Linked DNA regions of Homo sapiens: regions 1, 2 and 3 are each reported to be linked to region 4. The links are microRNA targets in miRTarBase. Many come from high-throughput screens and were not tested one by one. Region 4 holds a microRNA gene; each other region holds the end of a gene's coding sequence.
The links. The annotated mature microRNA hsa-miR-5701 reads UUAUUGUCACGUUCUGAUU and lies in region 4 at 2,691-2,709, shown strand. An mRNA with a match to its seed (bases 2 to 7 or 8) in the 3' UTR can be bound and repressed. Matches are read on the target gene's strand: a 7mer-m8 pairs with bases 2 to 8, a 7mer-A1 pairs with bases 2 to 7 and ends in A, and an 8mer does both.

Region 1 (5,148 bases), not on the chromosome of region 4:
CAGCCTCTGAACACGACAGTCGCACACCGGGCTAGGTCTGCTTTTTATTGGCCACGCATCCAGCCGCCAGCCTCAGGGCACACACCTGGCAGGGGGCAGGCTCGGGTAGGCTGCCCTCGCTGGGTGGGCAGTGAGGGGGCAGCGGCTGCTGGGTGTCACCCTGCAGCCCCTCAGGTGGACCTGTATTGTCCCCAGGGCCTGCCCACGCTGGGCAGCTGGCACTGGGAGGGGTTTTCTGTTGATGTGATGGCCAAGTTTCAGCTGCAGGGCAGAGGCCTGGCAGTGGCAGCAAAGGCAGACCGCCCCCCACTCCAACTTCAGGGGCTGGACATGCTGGAACGGGGGCCAGACCCCATGGGAGGGGACCCTGGCCTGCCATGGCACTGCCTGCCAGCTTACCCCTGCCCAGGGCCCCCAACTCAGCCACCTCCAAGCAGTAAAGACTTGCAAAGCATTGCATTTTGATTAAACCTTGCTGGGCTGAAGGGCAGGCAGAGCTGTGGTGGACACTGGCAGGACGCAGCACCCCCCGACTGGCCCTTGGCAGGCTGCACCGGGCGCATGCGGGTGTGGGCCAGGGTTGCCTTTAGGAAGCAGGTGGGAGGCTGGCACGTGCAGGCGGTCCAGGAGGGCACCAGGCCTGGCAGGGCACTGGTGCCTGTCGGGTTCCCAGCCACAACACCCCAAGAAGGCTCCAGGAGGGCCCCGGCTGGGTAAGGCACGGAGTTTTGGTTTCCGGGGCCCAGTCCCAGCCTGGCCCCCAGAAGAGCCTCTCTTGGCAGAATGGCAGCATGTCCTGTGGCCTGGGCTCTCTCACTTGGCCTTGGGCCTGGGCCTGAGGCCTGTAAGAGAGAGAAAAAATGACATTATTAGGAGCAGTTTTGCTGGGTACAATATCAGGTGCCCGCTTCTGGGTGCCCAGGTCCCTGAACCCCTCATCGCCACTGTCCAGCAGGTTGTGCCATGCATCGCAGGTCCACTCTGACCCCAGGCTCTTTCTCTGGAGCAGCACAACTTATCTAGGTGGAAGGTGCCGGGCTGGCCTGGCCAGGCTGGGTTTTGGCAAGGCGTGGCAGCCTGAGCCTGTCTCCTCTCTGCTGAGATAGGGAATCTCTGTGGCCTGTCCCCCACCCCCTGTCTGAGACCCAGGCTGCACTCTGTCCTTACTCATTCATCCCCACTGCCACCCCCTGCAGCCCTCCATTGCTTCCACGTCGGGCCCTGGGCCCCACACGAGGACCCCAGCAGCGCTTTCTCCAGTGGGCTGCTGAGGGCGCTCAGCCCTGCCCCAACAGCTCCCGCCACCCAGACGGCCCCCACACATGGCCCCACAGGCCTCCTGCCCCCAACGCCCTCTTCGCTTTCTGGTCCAGGGGCCCTCGATGGCCCTTGTCTGAGTGTCACCCCCACTGCCACCACAGTGCCAGGTGGTGTCCCAGCTCCCCAGTGGGATGGCCCAAGCAGGGTTTGAGAACCACTACTCTAAACAGACAGCAAGAAAACAAAAACTATCCAAAACAATCACTCAAAGGAGGGTCTCAGCACCATTCCCCACTCAGGGAACCTGGAGAAATGGCCAAGACCAAGGCCCGTGCAGGGATGGGGGGATCAGCAAGTCTGGGGTGAGCTAGGAACAGGGGCTTGTGCCAAAGATGGGAAGCGCTCAGGGCCCCCGCTGGTCCCCATCAAATGCACGGCAGTGGCAGTGAAGGATTACTGCACGTTCAAAACTCACGTGATGGAAAAAGGGAGGGGAGGGGGGAACGCTCGGACGAGGGGCGGCGAACACAGAACCGCGCTGCAGCGGTTGGTTCCACAGGTCACCACCGGTGCTTATTAACCAGACAGCGTGGTGTTCGTGCAGTGGAGGTTCAGAAACCACCCCCGCAGCCGTGGTCAGCGCTGCTGCCACAAACGTCCCCACCCAGCTGGGGAGGACATGGCATCCCTTGGGGTAGAACTCCTGCCCCAAAACTCAACCTGGACCTACTTGGGGGCGCAATCAGGCAAACCCAAAGTGAAGTTATCTTCCAGAACGTCAATGTCATACAAGACAAAAAGGGGCAGGAATGTTCTAGAACAAAAGAGACTGAAGTGATATGATAACCAAACACAGCATGTGACTCTGGATACAATCTTGTTTGCAAAAACAACAAAGCAACAACTAGAGAAGGAATTATTGGGGCAAGTGGCACATCTGCACTGGGACCGAGTATTAGAAGCATGTGGACGTGAAGCGCCCCACAGCGGACCCTGCCCGGGGGGGACTGGGAGGACGGCAGCGCACCCTGCCCGGGGGGGCGGACTAGGAGGACGGCAGCGCGCCCTGCCCGGGGGGGGGACTGGGAGGACGGCAGCGCACCCTGCCCGGTGGGGGCGGACTGGGAGGACGGCAGCGCACCCTGCCCGGGGGGGACTGAGGAAGACGGCTGTGCTCTCAGGTGTCTGTGGGCGAGTTTAGGGCTCCAGTGCCATGATGTTTATAAGAAACTCTCAGATGCCTCAGTTGGAGGGGGGCAATGTAGCAAAATGGTCACAATTTTGGTATTTTTGGCAAATGGTTGTAATTTCGGGGAGAAGGTGTTGTTCATTCTGATCTATGCAGTTTCCTGTGGTGTTGAAGATTTTCTAAATAAAAAGGTGGGGGCTGGGCACGGTGGCTCACGCCTGTAATCCCAGCACTTTGGGAGGCCGAGGCGGGTGGATCACCTGAGGTCAGGAGTTCGAGACCAGCCTGACCAACATGGTGAAACCCTGTCTCTGCTAAAAATACAAAAAATTAGCCGCGCGTGGTGGCGTGTGCCTGTGGTCCCAGCTACTCGGGAGGCTGAGGCAGGAGAATCACTTGAACCTGGAAGGTGGAGGTTGCTGTGAGCTCAGATCGCACCACTGCACTCCAGCCTGGGCAACAGAGTGAGACTCCGTCTTGAAAAAAAATAAAAAATAAAAAGTTGGGGAGAGAAGAGGACTTCTTCCTCTTGCCCTCAGCCACGTGCGTGGCAGGAGCTGGGGCGGGTGGAGGCTAAGCACGTGTAGCAGGTTCAGGAGGGAACCAGGTGGAGCGTGGAGCTGGCACTGGACACGTCCATCTTTCACTGGACCATTGTCAGATGTGGCCGCCCGCCCCAGACCTGCATGCTCCACTGTTCCTCACACTCAGGGCCAGCAAGTCCAAGTTCCAGCCTCTAAGGGAGATGCCAGCACCTTTCTAAAAAGTACACGTGGGTGCTTCACACCAGAGAGCCACACTCGGAAGATGACCCTGGAAGCAAAAGCTGGAACCCAGGGTGAAGGCCGTGCCCCAACAGCGAGGACAAGCTGTCCGGAGAAGCTTCTCCGGGGTCACGACTGCTCTTGCCTCTGATGGGCACCAGCAGACCTCAGGTGTGCACCTTGAGCCTAAGCCCCAGGCCCAGCGGTCAGCATATTTGTGATGCACCGACACCGGGCTGGCTCTGAGCAAGGCTGGAGGTGCTGGAAGACGCCACGACCTGGGCTCACAGAGCTCATGATCGGCCGGGCTGGACCTTCTGGTTCTCTGCTCTAGCCCCTCCTCCACCCAGTGCAGGCTGGTCCTGTCTAGCTGGATGCATTGGCCTCTCCAGCCCTGTGGACGGACCTGGCTGATTGACCTTTGGCTGGTCGCCCCCCAGAAGACTCGGTGTGCGGGGGGTAATCTGCTTCTCCATAGACCCACCCATGGCCTCGGGGTGGGAGGACACTGTCCAACAGGAGGGGGGTTGCAGTGTACTTGTCCCTGGCAGCATCTGCCCTTGCGACTGTCCCGGTCTCCTCACAGACTTCCTGGGGACATGCCCCAGAAGGCCCCACGCCATTGACACACTTAGAGTGAAGATAGCCCTCCACCAACAGACAGAGCAGGAAAGCCACAGGGTTACTGGAACTGCAGTTAGCGCCAGGACACCAGACAGGAGCAACCTCAGCCTGTCCTGCCAGCCAGGAGGTCCCGCCCACGCCCCAGGGCCCGGATCCTGCTTGCTAAGGGAGTCCGGCTGGCCCTGCCACCTGCCCTCTCGAGGCCCGCATGCCCGGGGCCAGCACTGAGGTTGCGTCCTGCCTGCAGGAGGCACCAGTTGAGCAGGTAACCTGCGGAGAGGGAGGGGATGGGGCGGGAAGCCCACCACCAGGGCTGCGGGAGCGGCAAGGCCACACTGACGCACCACGCGGGCTGGAGAGAAGCCAGGTTAGTGTCCCGGAGGGGTGTGGGCAGCAAGCTCCAGCCCCACTGCCCTGCAGCTGCTGTTAGCCCCCACGGAGCGCCGGCTGCGTACATACCTTACTGGATCACACACAGTTTCTTTGTTTTATTATCATCAGAATCAGGGGGAACCTCTGCTTCCAAATAAAAGAAACGCACTCAACGGCTTATCACACAGAAGCAACCCTGACTCGGAGTGGGTGGGGCTGGGGGGCCCGGGACAGCCATGCCAACACCCTCTGAGGGCTGCCCGGTTCTCTGGCCACTAAGCCACATGGCAGCCACTTGCCTGGGACCTGGTGCCCGGTGTCCGCCCCCTACTCCCTAACGGAGGTGGCGTGAAGGTCGGAATTAGTAGGTTGGAGGAATAGTTGCACGGGCCGCGGCAGCCCACATAGCCGCCCTGCGGTGGACGCACTGCCGCCTCCTCTCCCGTGCCGCACCCAAGTCACCTCTCCTGGGTGCCGCTGGAACTTGCAGTGCCCAATGGGGAAGGGGAGGGACCGGCTGGGTGCCAGCGCCCTGGCGTGGGACGGTGCCCGGGGCCCCTCCCTGAGTTACCTTCCTGGCTCCTGGAGGGACGCTTCTTCCTTCGCTTCCCGGTCCCCTTTGAGGCCCGGCCCCGGGCCCTGGGGAGTGTGCCCGACCCCGAGGAGTCGGTCACCGCATCCTCGGAGAAGGACTTGTCCAGGGATGTGTCCAGTGCGGACTCTGGGGCCGTGTCCTCCTCGTCCTCGTCCTCATCCCCACCTGGGCCTGCTGCAGGGGGTCTGGCACCACGGCTGTGGACAGCGTCCTCCAGCCCCTCACTTGTGCTGTCGGCCTCGGCCTGGAGGACGCCCAGCAAGGACGTGGGATCCTTGGCATCTTGCCTTGAACTTCCGGCTGCAGGGGGCTGGTTGCTGGAGAACTTGAGGGGCTTCAGGGCC
Region 2 (5,148 bases), not on the chromosome of region 4:
CCTAGGCAGACAGCTCTTCATTTTTATTTTTCATACAAATAGGATCTCTGACACAAGTGACCATTTAATAAACAAAGAAGAGTAGCTGCTGCAAATTTAAATGCCTCTAGGCTGTGACTTCCTTTAAAAAGGCTTCCCTCTCCTTTTGGTGCCTTTCTCAGCAATAGAAAGAAAATAAAAAATTATAAAAACGGGGTGGGAGAGATATATAGGAGTTCAGGGTGTCCAAATGCACTGGCAAAAAATAATGGATGTTGGGGCAGCAGCCAGTGGGGAAGGGTGTCAGGGAGGGGAGGCAATCATGAAACACTAAAAAAATCCTATGCAATTACAATTGCCATTTGGCACTTGTTTTTCACAAGAAGACATTTACAAGTGACGCTGGGAAATCTGGCCAACAGATCTTCAAAAATTCATCTTGATACTCGCGGAGCACATGTAGTCCAAACAACCCATTACTGAAACTTGGAATCCTGCAATTTACACCACTTCAAAATGCCCTGCTGCTTTTTTATGTGTGTGTGTGTGTGTGTGTGTGTCTGTGTGTGTGTGTGTGTGTATATATATATATATATATATATATAGAGAGAGAGAGAGAGAGAGAGAGAGAGAGAGAGAGTGAAAAGACTCATGGAGCAGAAGACAACCTTGATCATCTCAACACAACCCATCAGTAAAAAACAATGGGGGTAGGGGGTTGTTAGTATCAATCATCTGGAAATTTTTTTCAAAATATGCATCCCACCTCACACTCAGGGTATTTTTTAAAAGGGCAGGAGCTCCTATAGAGAGAGAATTATAATAGGAGACGTTTGTATATTCCTTCCCTATTCACCCTCCCTTTTAGAGATCTGTGACTATCAGTCAATGTTATTTAAACATTCAGTAATATTACTACCTTAAAGTTATACATATATGTAATTACGCACACACATATATGTAAATTATTGTACCTTAATAATCTTGTGAGGTTAGTACGACTTAATTATTCCTACTTGGCAAATGCAGTAACAGTAACAGACTGACTTACCTAAGGTCACGTGGATAATCAGTGACAAAGATGAAAAACAGTGGGAGTTGAACAATGAGAACACATAGACACAGGGAGGGGAACATCACACACTGGGGCCTGTCAGGCGGTGGGCGGCAAGGGGAGGGAGAGCATTGGGACAAATACCTAATGCGTGCAGAGCTTAAAACTTAGATGACGGGTTGATGGTGCAGCAAACCACCATGGCACATGTAACCTATGTAACAAATCTGCACATTCAGCGCATGCATCCCAGAACTTAAAGTAAAATAAAAATTAAAAAATAAATAAATAAAATGTTTAAATGGCCCACCAGGTGACTAAAAAAAGAAAAAGAAAAAAAAATCAGTTCTTATGCATTCCTGCTTTTACTCTCTCTGTCCAATACTGAATGTGATACGTAGTATAGCCTTTTGTCATCTTGTGAGAAAACAGTTCTATTTCTGCGTGTATGTGTGCAACCAAGATGTATATATATATCTCAATTCCATATATGTTAATGGACTCTATCCAGTTAGTCAGCCTTATTATATCTTGCTACATTAAAAAAAAAATCTTCATTTAAGAACTAAATGACCTAATGATAAGAATTCAGCCTTTTACTACAAGTTTGGCCAATCACCCCAAATTAGGAAAATGTCCAAACTGGGTAGTTTAACTTCCCCCCTAGTTGCAAACTACAAAATAGTGGTATCCCATTTACTGCAAGAGAAAACATAGGTGTCAAAGTTGAATGTATAGCATCCTAACAGGAAGACCAGGCATCCTATAACCTTGAAATGCTCAAGGGCAAATCTGGGTTTTACTAGTAGTAGACTTTGGATTCTAAGCTTAACGAAGTGAATCAAATAAAACATAAGCTGATGTTGAAACATTATTAACAGAGTTTAAAGCTGTTTCTCACATTTTTAATTCTGTGTCCATTCTACCCGAAAGAATATCTTAAATCCAGCCCTTTATTTATAGCAGAGGACTTAATCAGAGGCATTCTCTATAGACTTATTCTACCTGTGCACTACCACAAAGGTTCCCTGCCTGTAACAGCCAAACAGACAATTACCTAAGCTTGTCTCCCTACTGACCTTATCTCTTAAGAACAAATTTCAGAGGAAATGAATAAGTATTTGATAAGCTGTCATGTTCCTTTTGGGCTTGCTGACACACTTTTTTTTTTTCTGAAGAGAGCTGCACACTTGGAAATATATTGTGCATTTTTCTACCTTGACTCAGCATCTTACAATATGTTAGCATGGCAATATTTTAGATACAGCAAGGATATGACCTTTCTGTAAAGGTGCAAGTGATTACGTACTGGAAAATAGCAAGGATGCTCATGTTGGGAAAGAAAAGGTGAAAAAAAAAAAAAAAAACTTGATGAATAAAAGGCCAGCCAAAGAAGACAGGAAGTAGGCTCATCAACCGGGAACTTGGACAGCAATAAAATCAGAAAAGCACTTACCTTTTCCAGGGAATCACTCCGATAAGATAATCATCAATCCTTTATTTGGTTTATTAATAGCATCAGTCTCTGAATATTTTATAAGGAATTATAAGGAATATTTCAAGACAAATTAGGTAAATAAAGCTTTCAAACACTTTATTTAAATGTGAAAGACTTGATGATTCAAAAAAAGCTTTTTTTCAAAAAAAGGCTCTTGGAAGTGAACATGCAAACATAATTCATATGTTTAGGATTATTCCAGAATGAACACATTATAGAGTTAAAATTAGTTACGCCTATTACAATTTAAACTCAAGCCATATAATTAAAAATTATTAAACCTATGCAACTTATTATGAAAGTAGGATTTTTAAATTCCTTTACAAGTTCATGTGATGCTTTTACCTCAAGAAATGGTAAACCACCCATAATGCATTACTCAGGCCACACTCCACTTTTGTACTCCCACGGCATCCATATTAAATGCTCAGAAATCAGGTCTTGCCAGTACATGGAGAATAGCTCTGTCTCTCAGCAGTTCACTAATTAAAACCAAGTTCACCAACACCCATACACAATCCAGAATTCCCAGTTATTATTTTACAGTGAAGCTTAGCCTTTTCATATGGCCCATGGACCAGAGTATTTGCACTGACCTATCTATCTGCCTCTAAAGACCAGATCTACCTACACACGGGGAACCTCGCTTATCATGTACTTATCAACTTTCATTGTTATTTTTTCCTTGTCTTTTATTGTTATTTTCTTTCACTGTCTTTTATCGTTATTTTCTTTCACTGTCTTTTATCGTTATTGTTTTCTCGTCCAACAAGACAGTGAACTGAGAGCAGGGACCAGGTGTTTTTACTTCTATGCCCTCAGCGCCCTATTATGTTTGTTGAGTGAATGAATTCTGTGAGCCCTGTAGCAAAGTGACATATAATCAATCACAAAATCACAAAAATATAAATGTGAGAAGAAAATGCCGCATAAAATTCTGTATCTCGTGTAGGTTTCAATCACTTGGAATTTTTTTAAAAAATAATACAACCATAAACTTTCCAGTGGTTTTGTAGGGTTACTTTAAAAGGAGGCTTGTTACAAATCAGTTACTCATGAGCTGCAGCTGCTGAAATTTCCCTTCAAAATGAGGTCTTCCATGTAGTAGAAACAACTGGGGCAGAGGTAAATGAAAAGAAAAACTCATTTCATTGGATTTGTAATACAATTTCAAATCCTGTAGCATCAAATACGATAAACATGTTTAGAGCATATTTTAAATTATAAGATTTTCAACTCCAGGTTGGTCTGTGGATTTTACTGTCCAATATCAGAACACTAGGCAAGAAGGTTGCTTTCAGAATTAAACATAAATCCTTCACTCTTTGTTTAGTGCTTGTTTTAGCACACAGTATACAGCTTCAAAAATCCCAAAAGAGCCTATGACACCATAGCTAGTGGAGAACTTGGCAAAGACAAGGGACACCAGCCAACTTCCCACCATACAATCAAGCAAGACATTTTAAAATTAGTAGCTATAAAATAATATTTCACTAAAAATGGAGCTTTTCACAAAAACTGAGGATTATTTTTATTTATATTTGGCAAGAATTGACATTAATCCTTTATAAAGTATTCATTATCCTTTTGTTTCCCATTTGTAAATATAATAACTGAAAATAACCTACGGAATTACTTTTTCCCAATCCTCGTTTCAAAGCTCCTCACTATGTACAAAAGTCCATTTCAGCTTTGACGACATGCTAGATGCTTCCATTACAGGACTACAATGGCTTTAGAAATGCATTTGTAGCTCACCGAACTGTATTATCTACAATATATAAGACTTAGCATATATTTAAATTATAGAAAATAAAGTACAAGGTGTTTTATTTTTCTTCATGGGGCTTTCAGGCAGACATCAGGATCTTCTCTTATCCCTAAAGAAAAATAACAAAAATCAAGAAAAAATAAACTTACAAACTATTAAAATTACAGATTAACTCAAACTTATAAAATTTCCAACTGCATAAAACTCACAATGACACAACACAGTAATATACCTCAAGCAACTATTATTTAAAACTGAGTTATAAAGAATGGAATATTAGGCAGAAAAAAACAACTAGCCAACTTGGAAATTAGAGCTCTATTTGCATTTGTATTATAAAGGCTAACTATTCATTAATTTAATTCACCACTTGAGTCTAATTGTCAGTTTATGCCTGAGCCTAGGTCCCTGTCAAAAAGGGACTCGTTTTCTTTTATCATAAATATTTATTGTTTCAATCAAGGCCTATCCTCTTACTCCAAACAAATGATAAACCCCATTCAATAGAGGAGTAAACAGTCACGTATCAGATAGCTACAGACATTGGCTGGTATTCAGTCTTTAGCACGACACATACACTAAAATAGGTTTGCTCAGGATATGTAACAATATGTGCCAGTGGAACAATAAAGTGCACTATTTAATTTCCTTTGCTTCAGAAAAATGTCATTAATTCAAGCACCACCAATTCAGAAATCAGAATCATGTGTGCCAGGCTAACGTTAGCTTTCATGTCCCTGAAGGAAAAAACAGTTTACTAAGCAAAGATAAAGGACAGCCCAGGTGTTCTCTGAATTATACCATCTTTCACATTATTTGTGTCTGAATTAGTGAAGTGAAATCATA
Region 3 (5,148 bases), not on the chromosome of region 4:
GAGGGCCGTGGTACAATCACAGCTCACTGCAGCCTCAACCTCCCGGGCTCATCCTCCAACCTCAGCCCCACGGGTAGCTTGAGACTACAGGCGCGCACCACCATGCCCAGCTAATTTTGGGGGTTTTTGTTTGCTTGTTTTGGGAGAGACAGGGTCTCATTATGTTGCCCAGGCTGTTGAGATGGAACATTACTCACAAACATGTAAAAACTCAAACGATGGCGGGTCTGCCCATTCATGGATGGAACAGGGGGTGTCAACATGTAAAAACTCAAACAACGGTGGGTGCCTGTTCGTGGATGGAGCAGGGGGTGTCAACATGTAAAAACTCAAACAACGGCGGGCGTGCCTGTTCGTGGATGGAACAGGGGGTGTCGGGAAGGCGTCAGGGCTCCCGGTTGCTGTCAGTCGCCCGTGAGACCCGAGCAGCAGTCGCTCTGTTCTTGTGATCATGGCTGAGTGGGATCCAGTGTGAGTCTCCACCCGGCCTGTTACCCAGTTCCAGCTGCAGGGCCTGGGCGCCCTTTTCCGCCTGGGCAGCAGTGAATGAAGTTGCTCTAAGTCCCTTGCTGCTCTTGGTGCACTTAAGAGAGGGCTCGCAGGCCACAGGATAACAGGAGAGGCTGAGTGCGCGGCATCCTCCATCATGGAAACGCATCTCGCACCAGCACACGCAGCTGGCTTTTCCACTACTTTTGCCCGTCGATGGCACCACCCAGCTTTTCTCTGGGTGGGACAGGTATCTGTCCACCTGGGGTTTCTACTCTGCATGTTTTATCTTTTTTTTTTTTTTTTTCCTGAGATGGAGTTTCACTCGTCGCCCAGGCTGGAGGATAATGCCATAATCTCAGCTCACTGCAACCTCCGCCTCCCAGGTTCAAGTGATTCTCTTGCCTCAGCCTCCTGAGCAGCTGGGACTACAGGTGCCTGCCACCATGCCTGGCTAATTTTTGTATTTTGAGTAAAGACAGGGATTCACCATGTTGGCCAGGCTGGTCTTGAACTCCTGACCTCAGATGATCCGCTCGCCTCGGCCTCCCAAAGTGCTGGAATTACAGGCGTGAGCCACCGCGCCCGGCCATGTTTTATCTTTTATCCAGGTAGTCTGTGACTATCCAAACGAGGCTCTGACAGTCTACAGGGATCGTGTCAGTCTGGAGAGTTGGGTTAAAGGCAGGTTGTTCGGGGTGAGAAGGGGACGCTGAGGCAGCAGGTGGTCACAGCCTCACGTCTCAGAAGGATGCGCTGAGCAGTCCCGGGGTTTTGGGCAAGTGAGGTCCACACCCCTCTAATGAGTACCTTTAGAGGCCACTGGCCTGCAAGTTCTGATGACGGGGAACAGCCTTAGGGGCCTCTCCCTGGAGCTCCCACTCACCCCCTCGACCCCCACCCTGCTGTGTCCTGAGCTGTGGCTTGGGAGATGTTTCTGGACTGGGACCAGACCCCGCAACCTAGAGAGCCAGCTCTAGGCTGGGAATTCCTGGGCTTAATGTCCAGGCATGAAGTCAGCTCCTTGTGTGTCCTCATCTGTACAGAGAGGGAAAGGCCCATCACCGTCTCCGCGAGGACAGACTCCGAGGTGATGTGGGTCGGGCCTGCACCCTCAGTGGTTTCCCTTCTGGAGTCTGGGCCTGCTCGGCCAGTGCCCTCATTTTCTGTGGAGCTGTTCCATGTCTGGGCACAGAAGCACCTCTCTGGGAGCAGGTGGGGACGTGAGAGCCCCCTGCTGGAACTGTTCTGTCACAGGCCCCGGGAGGAGCTGGACCTGCTGCCGGAGCCCCTTGGGGCAGCGGGTGAGCCGCGGTGTGAGAGACTCGGGCCTGGAGCACCAAGGGCCCCACAGCAGGAGGGATGGGGGTGCAGCCTCCAGGGCGCTGGGGTCCTCTTGGCTGACCAGGAGCCTTACACAGGGGCTGCCTCATGGGGTTGGCGGGAGCCCCGGTGTGAGGGAGACAGCCACAGAGGCAGCCCCGAAAGCAAAGCGCGGAGCAGATGGCAGAGGATCCCACGTGGCAGAGGAGAGGGCAGCAGAGGATCCCACGTAGCAGAGGAGAGGGCGGCAGAGGGTCCCGTGTGGCAGAGGGCAGCAGAGGGTCCCACGTGGCAGAGAAGAGGGCGGCAGAGGGTCCCGCGTGGCAGAGGATCCCACGTGGCAGAGAAGAGGGCAGCAGAGGATCCCACGTGGCAGAGGAGAGGGCGGCAGAGGGTCCCGTGTGGCAGAGAGGGCGGCAGAGGGCCCTGCGTAGCAGAGGAAAGGGCAGCAGAGGGTCCCACGTGGCAGAGAAGAGGGTGGCAGAGAAGAGGGCAGCAGAGGGTCCTGCGTGGCAGAGAGGGCGGCAGAGGGTCCCGCGTGGCAGAAGAGAGGGCAGCAGAGGGTCCCGCATAGCAGAGGGCGGCAGAGGGTCCCGCGTGGCAGAGGAGAGGGCGGCAGAGGGTCCCGCGTGGCAGAGAGGGCAGCAGAGGGTCCCGCGTGGCAGAGGAGAGGGCAGCAGAGGGTCCCGTGTGGCAGAGAAGAGGGCGGCAGAGGGTCCTGCGTGGCAGAGAGGGTGGCAGAGGGTCCCGCGTGGCAGAGGAGAGGGCGGCAGAGGGTCCCGCGTGGCAGAGGAGAGGGCGGCAGAGGGTCCCGCGCGGCAGAGAAGAGGGCGGCAGAGGAGAGGGCAGCAGAGGGTCCCGCGTGGCAGAGAAGAGGGCGGCAGAGGGTCCTGCGTGGCAGAGAGGGCGGCAGAGGGTCCCGCGTGGCAGAGGAGAGGGCGGCAGAGGGTCCCGCGTGGCAGAGGAGAGGGCGGCAGAGGGTCCCGCGTGGCAGAGGAGAGGGCGGCAGAGGTTCCCGCGTGGCAGAGGAGAGGGCGGCAGAGGGTCCCGCGTGGCAGAGAAGAGGGCGGCAGAGGAGAGGGCGGCAGAGGAGAGGGCGGCAGAGGGTCCCGCATGGCAGAGGATCCCACGTGGCAGAGAAGAGGGCAGCAGAGGATCCCACGTGGCAGAGGAGAGGGCGGCAGAGGGTCCCGTGTGGCAGAGAGGGCGGCAGAGGGTCCCACGTGGCAGAGAAGAGGGCAGCAGAGGGTCCCACGTGGCAGAGAAGAGGGCGGCAGAGGGTCCCGCATAGCAGAGAAGAGGGCAGCAGAGGGTCCCGCGTGGCAGAGGAGGGCAGCAGAGGGTCCCGTGTGGCAGAGAAGAGGGCGGCAGAGGGTCCTGCGTGGCAGAGAGGGTGGCAGAGGGTCCCGCGTGGCAGAGAAGAGGGCAGCAGAGGGTCCTGCGTGGCAGAGAAGAGGGCGGCAGAGGGTCCCGCGTGGCAGAGAAGAGGGCGGCAGAGGGTCCCGCGTGGCAGAGAGGGCGGCAGAGGATCCCGCGTGGCAGAGGGCAGCCGACAGGCAGCTCTGAGAGGATACAGGGTTGGGAAGCTCAGGCAGAAGGCCATCGTAAGAGCTAAGAGCTACGTATGGAGAGTGTGGAGGTGATGAGAACTGAACGGGGGCCGCTGGGCTTAGTGACCAGGCAGCAACTGTGCCCTTGCTGAATTCCAGGCGCTAAAGAACTTGGTGAAGAGTCCGGGCCCCGCTGAGAGGGTGGCGCGTGCGCAAATGTGGAATCCTCACCCAAAGTCCTCAGCCTCAGAGCACACGAAGGTGTTTCTCCTCCCCTGTCGAGCGGGAACCGGGGGTCCAGGCTGGGACGCTGATTGGATGTGACAGCCCAGCAGACTCCATGCTCGGGGTGGAGGCTTCAAAGGACACGGCAGGCGTCAGGGACTTTTCTTTCTCTTTGAGATGGGGTCTTGCTCTGTTGCCCAGGCTGGAGTGCAGGGGCGCAATCACAGCTCATTGCAGCCTCAATGTCTGCTCAAGCAATCCTCCAGCCTCAGGCCTCTAACATGCCAAGATCACAGGTATGAGCCACTGTGCCTGGCCTAGGGACTTTTTCTTTTTCTTTTTTTTTTTTTTTTGAGACAGTCTCACTCTGTCGCCCAGGCTGGAGTGCAGGGGCACGATCTCGGCTCACTGCAAGCTCCGCCTCCCGGGTTCACGCCATTCTCCTGCCTCAGCCTCCCGAGTAGCTGGGACTACAGGCGCCCGCCACCACGCCCGGCTAAGTTTTTTGTATTTTTAGTAGAGATGGGGTTTCACCGTGTTAGCCAGGATGGTCTCGATCTCCTGACCTTGTGATCCGCCCGCCTCAGCCTCCCAAAGTGCTGGGATTACAGGTGTGAGCCACCGTGCCCGGCCGGCCTGGGGACTTTTTCTAGTGATGTACAAGCACTTGCACACATTTTATTGTACAAAATTCCCCAGTACTGCTTTAATAGTGAAAAAAACACACACACATACAAAAGAAGTTTCAACACGGCTCGTCGTTAGAATTCAAAGTCTTCTCCTGCCATGGCGAGAGCCCAGGCGAACCTCTCCCGCTGTGTTTTGCTGTAGATCTTCTCCACTGGCACCCTGAACCGCTTGCACCTGCGGGAGGCAGCATCAGCCCAGGCAAGCAGGCAACTCACCCACCTTGAAGGCCAGGTCAGGGTGCTCGGCAAGGGCGAGCGTCCTCCATGCAGCAGAGACACCAGAGCCGCCTGGTGTAGCTGGGACCTGCTCCTCTAGGCCAACCCCACCCCACGCATGCCGCCACCCTGGAGCATCAGCGAGGTGTCAAAGACAACCTGCTGTGGCCTAGGTGTCCACCGAGCAGGGCGCTCAGCCACCTCCCACTCCCTGTGGGCAGGCTGAGCTCCACAGGCCCTCCTGATGCCTCCGAGTCCCAGGCCACTGTCAGCACCCCCACTTCACCCTGTCCATCCGAACGTTCAGGGCAGGGAGAGCTGATGACACAGGACTCAGCATCATGGGTCCCTGTCACAGGGAGGGCCTGTGCTGACCCCAGGGGACACGGGACAAGGGCAATGCTGGGACTGAACAGAGGCCTCCTGGAAAACCCAGGCCCCCCATAGGCCACAGGTGGGAACTGAGACCCCAGGCACACGCACCAGGCAATGCTGATCCTGGGGTCCAGGTAGTTGAGCTTGGACGTGCCCAGGGCCACCTGCTTGTTCTCCTCCTTGTCCGTGGCCTGCACACTCAGCTGCGCCAGCTGCTCCTGCAGCTTCTCCAGGAGCCGCCTCTTCTTCTCCAGGACACTGGCAAGAGAAGAGGAGGCCGC
Region 4 (5,148 bases):
ATCTAATCAGATAATTTCTATTACTTAAATTATTCCAGACCATAGAAAAGAGTAATAGTTCCCAAATTCATATTCTAATTTAGCACAAATAAGTGTTAGAATAACTACTTTCAAAAGTGATAATGCATATTATGTTAAATATACACATGTTCTAAGAATCAGAAAGCTGAAACACTGGAAGGAAATGTTTTATTAAGTAGCTACCCAGTACATTTGCCAATAGCCAACCAGATTTACCTCACGCACACACACAAATCAACATACTAAAAGTAAGGATTTCCAAACATATTTCCACTCCAAATTTAAAGTGAAAGTTTAAATAACATATAAACCATCTGACTGGATACAATTCAGCCCTAAAGCTAGAGTTCAGGGCCCCTTATCTTTTGTTCATTATTAATTTTAAAATTTTTGATGTATTTATTAGTATTTATGAATAACATAGTAACATTCCCATAGATTTGCAGAGATCAAATCGAGGTAATTAGCATATCCATAATCTCATTTATCATTTCTTTGTGCTGGGAACATTCAACATCCTCCTCCTCTTTGAAACTGTGTAACATATTGTTGTTAATTACAGTCATCTTACAGTGCTATACAACACTAGAACTTGCTCTTCCTATCTAGCTGTAATTTTGAAACCTTTAACAAATTGCTTTCTACCATCCCTGCACCCTATGCTTCCCAGCCTGTAGTATTCTGTTCTACTTTTTACCTCTATGAGATCAACATTTTTTTAGCTTCCACAAATGAATGAGAACACACAGTACTTAATGTTCTGTCCCTGGCTTACTTCACTTAATATGATGTCCTCCAGTTCAATCCATGTGCCTCAAACTATAGGATTTCATTCTTGCTTATGGCTAAATAGTATTCCATTGTGTATGTATACCATATTTTCTTTATGCATTCATCTGTTGTTAGATACTTAGGATGATTCCATATCTTGGCTATTGTGAATAGTGCTGCAATAAACACGGGGGTGCCGATGTCTCGTCAATATACTGATTTCCTTTTCTTTGGATAAATGTCCAATAATATATTGTTGGACCATATAATAGTTCTATTTGCAGTTTTTTGAGGAACCTCCACACTGTTCTCCATAGTGGCTGTACTAGTTTACATTTCCACTAGCCACATTTAAGTGTTCACTTTTCTCCACATCTTTGCCAGCATTTGCTATTTTTTGTCTTTTTGATAGTAGCCATTCTAAGTGGGGTGAGATGACACCTCATTGTGGTTTTGATTTGCATTTCCCTGATGACTAGTGATGTTGAGCTTTTTAGGAAAACATATTTGTTGGTTATGTGTCTGTCATCTTTTAAGAAATATCTATTCAGGTCATTTGCCCATTTTTCAGTTGGGTTCTTTTTTTTTTTTTTTTTTGCTATTGAGATGTCAAGAGTTCCTTGTATATTCTGGATATTAATCCTCTGCTGGATACATACTTTGCAAATATTTTCTCCCATTCTGTAGGTTGTCTTTTCACTCTGCCAATTTCTTCCTTTGAATTAATATTAATTTTTTAAAGAAAAGTAACTTAAACGCTTGACAATATGGAATTAAAAATACAGTACCTTCAAGCTGGGTGCGGTGGTGCATGCTTATAGCTGCAGCTATCTGAAGGCTGAGGCAGAAGAGGATCGCGTAAGTCCAGAAGTTTGAGACCAGCCTGGGCAACATAACAGCAAGACTCAGTCTCTTTTTAAAAAATGGTATATTCAATTTGGGGAACATGCTACAAATCCTCAAAAAACGGGTACAGAAGAAACATACTGCAACACAATAAAAACCACATGAGAGACCCCCACAGCTAGAATCATATGGAATGGGGAAAAATGGAAAGCTTTTCCTCTAAGATCTGGAACATGATAAGGATGCCCACTGTCACCACTGTTATTTAACATAGTACTGGAAACCCTAGCTAAAGCAATCAGTGCAGCCCCTGATATGGCCCCCAACCCACCCTGCCCCCTGCCACCAGCAGTGTAGCCCCCCCGCAATAGCGCACCCAACACACCCAAACCGCCCCGCCTCCCCGAACCACGGGCATTGCAGCACCCCATAGCACCCTCAACCTGAAACCACCAACCCCCCGCAACAGCCGTGCAGTGCAGCCCTGGATAGGACACTTAGCCCACCTCACTGTTGCCAGCAATACAGTCTGGGATAGTTTCCCCAACAGGCTCCCCGCCGAGGGCAGTGCAGCCCCGGTTAGGGCCCCCAAACCACCCCCCGGTGCAGGCAGCACAGCCCCAGATAGCACACCTAACCAGCCACCCAAGGTGGGCAGTGACGCCTGAGATAGGGCCCCAAACCCGTCCCAGGCCAAGGGCAGTGCAGCCCTGGATAGCCACTTACCCCGATGCTTTTCTACACTCTGGCCGGTTGCAGTGTCCATCGCTGCCACCAACCGCAGCGGGCAAGGCAAGCCAGCGAGGCAAGGCGAGGCAAGCCGGCGAGGTGGTGAGCCAGGGAGGCCAGCCACAGCCCGGTAGGCTGCAGCCTCCAGCATGCAGTGGCTGGCACCTCCTACTCCAAGCTGGCAATGGAGCAGCTATGAAGTCAGACGCCGACGAGGCTGGACTAGTGCAACTCTATCTCTTAACATGCTTTATATACCGAGATTATAAACTACATGTTCTGAGTGGATGAGAGGAAAACACTAGGCCTACTCTGATTGGACTTTATTGTCACGTTCTGATTGGTTAGCCTAAGACTTGTTCTGATCCAATCAGAACATGAAAATAACGTCCAATCAGAGTAGGCGTAGATGTTTCTTTCATCCAATCAGAACGTGAAGTCCGAGAACCAGGCCTGCACAACCCCCAGTATATAAGCTATGCTAAGGGGGCGTCGCGCTGTTGCAGGCTATCGTGTGTTAGCCTCTACTTCTCCCGCAGAGTTTGGAGAAAGCGGCAGCAGAGTGTGCTGCCGCAGGCTGGAGCCTGGAACCTGGAGCCCTGGAGCCTTGAATGGTGTGTGGTGGCAATGGAGAGAGGCAGCTGGCAGTGACAGCTGCTCCGTGCTTGGCTACAGGAAGGAAAGAAGGAGAAGGCACCTACCATAGGCTGTAGGCTAGAGCCTGCAGGACTGCGGCTGGCCTCGCTGGCTCGCCTCCCTGGCTGGCCTCGCTGTGGTTGGTGGCAGCGACGGATACTGCAGCTGGCCAGAGTGTAGAAAGGCAATGGGGTAGGTAAGCTATCCAGGGCTGCCCGCGGCGGGGGCTGGTTGGGGTATTATTCCGGGTGTCACTACTTTGGGTGTACTAGAGTGTTATTTTGGGCGTCACTGCTTTTAGGTGTGCTATCCGGGGCTGCACTGCCCTCAGCAGCGGGTGGGGGGGGGGTTGGTGGGGGGCGGGTTGGGGTCACTATCTTGGGCTGTATTGATGGCAGCAGTAGGGCTGGTTGGGGGCGCTATTGGGTGCTGCACTGCCCGCGACAGGGGCCGGGTTGGGGCTGCTATTGTGGTTGCACTGCCGGCGGCATGGTGGTGGGAGGGCTGGTTAGGGTGCGGACTGGTGGGGGTGCTTACTGGTCGGGCTTCATTGCTGACAGCGGTGTGGGGATGCTATCTGGGGCTGCACTGCCCATGGTGGGGGCTTGTTGGGGGCGCTATGTGGGGCTGCAATGTCCATGGCAGGGGAGAGGTTAGAGGCAGTATCAGGTGCTACACTGCTGGTGGTGGGGCGGGGCAGCGGTGGGTGCGGGTAGGTGCTTGGAGGGTGCGGTTTCGGGCACTATCGGGCCAGACTGCCCATGATAGAGGGCAGGTTTGGGTGCGCTACTAGGGGATACACTCCTCACAGCAAGGGGCGGTTTGGGGGTGATACCCGGCCGGTGGCAGGCGGGGTGGTGGGGTGGGTTGTGGGCACCGTTCGGGGGCTGCACTGTGGTCAGTGGCGGTGGGGCGAGTTAGGTGCTCTATCAGCTGCTGCACTGTTTGTGGTGGGGGCTGGGTTTGGTGTGCTATCGGGGACCATATTTTTGGCAGCGGTATACAGGTTAGGGGTGCTGTCGGAGGCTGCACTGCCCATGGCGGGGTGCGGGTGGGGTGCACTATCCAGGGCATCATTCCCCCTGAGTGGGGGATAGTTGGGGGTGCTATCTGCTATGTAGGGCTGCACTGCTCGTCGTGGGGAGGGGGTTGGGGACCTTAAGGATCCATGGCTGCACTATTGACGGCATGGAGCAGGTGGCCGTGCTCTCCGGGGCATCACTGCCCGCAGCCGGGGGTTAGTTGGAGGTCCTATCCGTGGCTGCATGGCCGACGGCAGACGGTAGGATGGGGGAGTTATCTGGTGCTGCGACGTCCGAGGCAGGGATGGGTTGGGGGCGCTATTGGGTTTTACATTGCAGCGGCGAGGGGCGGTGTTGGGGGCGCTATCCCAGAGCCAACATCAGGCAGCGGATTAGGGGCGCCATCAGGGGCTGCCTTGCTGGTGGCGGCAGAGCTTGCAGCAACAGGGTCTCCAAGGAAGGAGCCTTCTTCCTCTTTCTGGATTTCAGACTCTAAAAGGCGATCTCCTCCTGCTCCTGCTAGAGCGCAGCGAGCGCACGGCGTTTCCGCAGTAATCCTGAGCACGGCAAGGACCCCTTACCCGCCGTGGTTCCCGGGGCCACGCCCTTTTCGCTCTGTGTTGCGGAGACCACCTGGCACCCCTAGGCACGCTGGACACGGAGTGGCGGGGACACCACGGGGAGACAGGGCTCTGTGGGTGGAGGCATCAGGATGGGGAACCGGCATTTGGGTGGGAGGGCTGGCTGTGTCTGAGTTCCTGCTGATTTTGTTCCCCAAGGAGCGCAGTCCTGGTGGGCCCAGCGGTTCCTGTGGATTGGAGCCAGGCAGTGTGATGTTACCAGTCACCACTCCAGGTCCCAGTTCCTGGCCCGCTTGAGCCAAAAGGAGAGGCTGGACTTTGGAGGGTGGATATGAGTGCCTTCACTGAGACTGGCCCCTGCCACCCAGTGGCCAGGATGACAAGGTGAGGCTCTAACGCTATCAGTCTCTGCATTCTCCTCTAGGCTTTTTTGGCTTTGTGTGTCCAGCTGTTCCATGCCAGGAGGAGGAGTTACATGCTGGAAGCTTGCAGATAGCCTGGGGCTGCTGCTCGCCTTGCTGCGGTTGGTGGCAGCTACCGAG

Region 1: the mRNA of INF2 is a reported target of hsa-miR-5701. Seed matches in the 3' UTR shown: 7mer-m8 at 184-190.
Region 2: the mRNA of SH2D1A is a reported target of hsa-miR-5701. Seed matches in the 3' UTR shown: 7mer-A1 at 3,282-3,288 and 7mer-A1 at 3,224-3,230.
Region 3: the mRNA of TOP1MT is a reported target of hsa-miR-5701. Seed matches in the 3' UTR shown: 7mer-A1 at 4,266-4,272.

Annotation. Positions count from the first base shown.
Region 1 is chr14:104,714,489-104,719,636 of GRCh38, reverse strand. It overlaps INF2 (inverted formin 2), which reads right to left. Exons shown (of 23, transcript NM_022489.4): 21 at 4,781-5,148; 22 at 4,297-4,353; 23 at 1-842. The coding sequence ends at 4,298. Among named protein-coding and RNA genes, the nearest start is that of ADSS1, 7.2 kb to the left of the region's middle. RefSeq lists an enhancer at 4,022-4,961.
Region 2 is chrX:124,370,614-124,375,761 of GRCh38, reverse strand. It overlaps SH2D1A (SH2 domain containing 1A), which reads right to left. Exons shown (of 4, transcript NM_002351.5): 4 at 2,602-4,411. The coding sequence ends at 4,371. Among named protein-coding and RNA genes, the nearest start is that of SH2D1A, 27 kb to the right of the region's middle.
Region 3 is chr8:143,305,093-143,310,240 of GRCh38, forward strand. It overlaps TOP1MT (DNA topoisomerase I mitochondrial), which reads right to left. Exons shown (of 14, transcript NM_052963.3): 13 at 4,976-5,125; 14 at 4,232-4,451. The coding sequence ends at 4,349. Among named protein-coding and RNA genes, the nearest start is that of ZNF696, 16 kb to the left of the region's middle. RefSeq lists enhancers at 2,214-2,714, 2,715-3,215.
Region 4 is chr15:21,511,278-21,516,425 of GRCh38, forward strand. MIR5701-2 (microRNA 5701-2) reads left to right here and starts at 2,682; the gene lies at 2,682-2,763.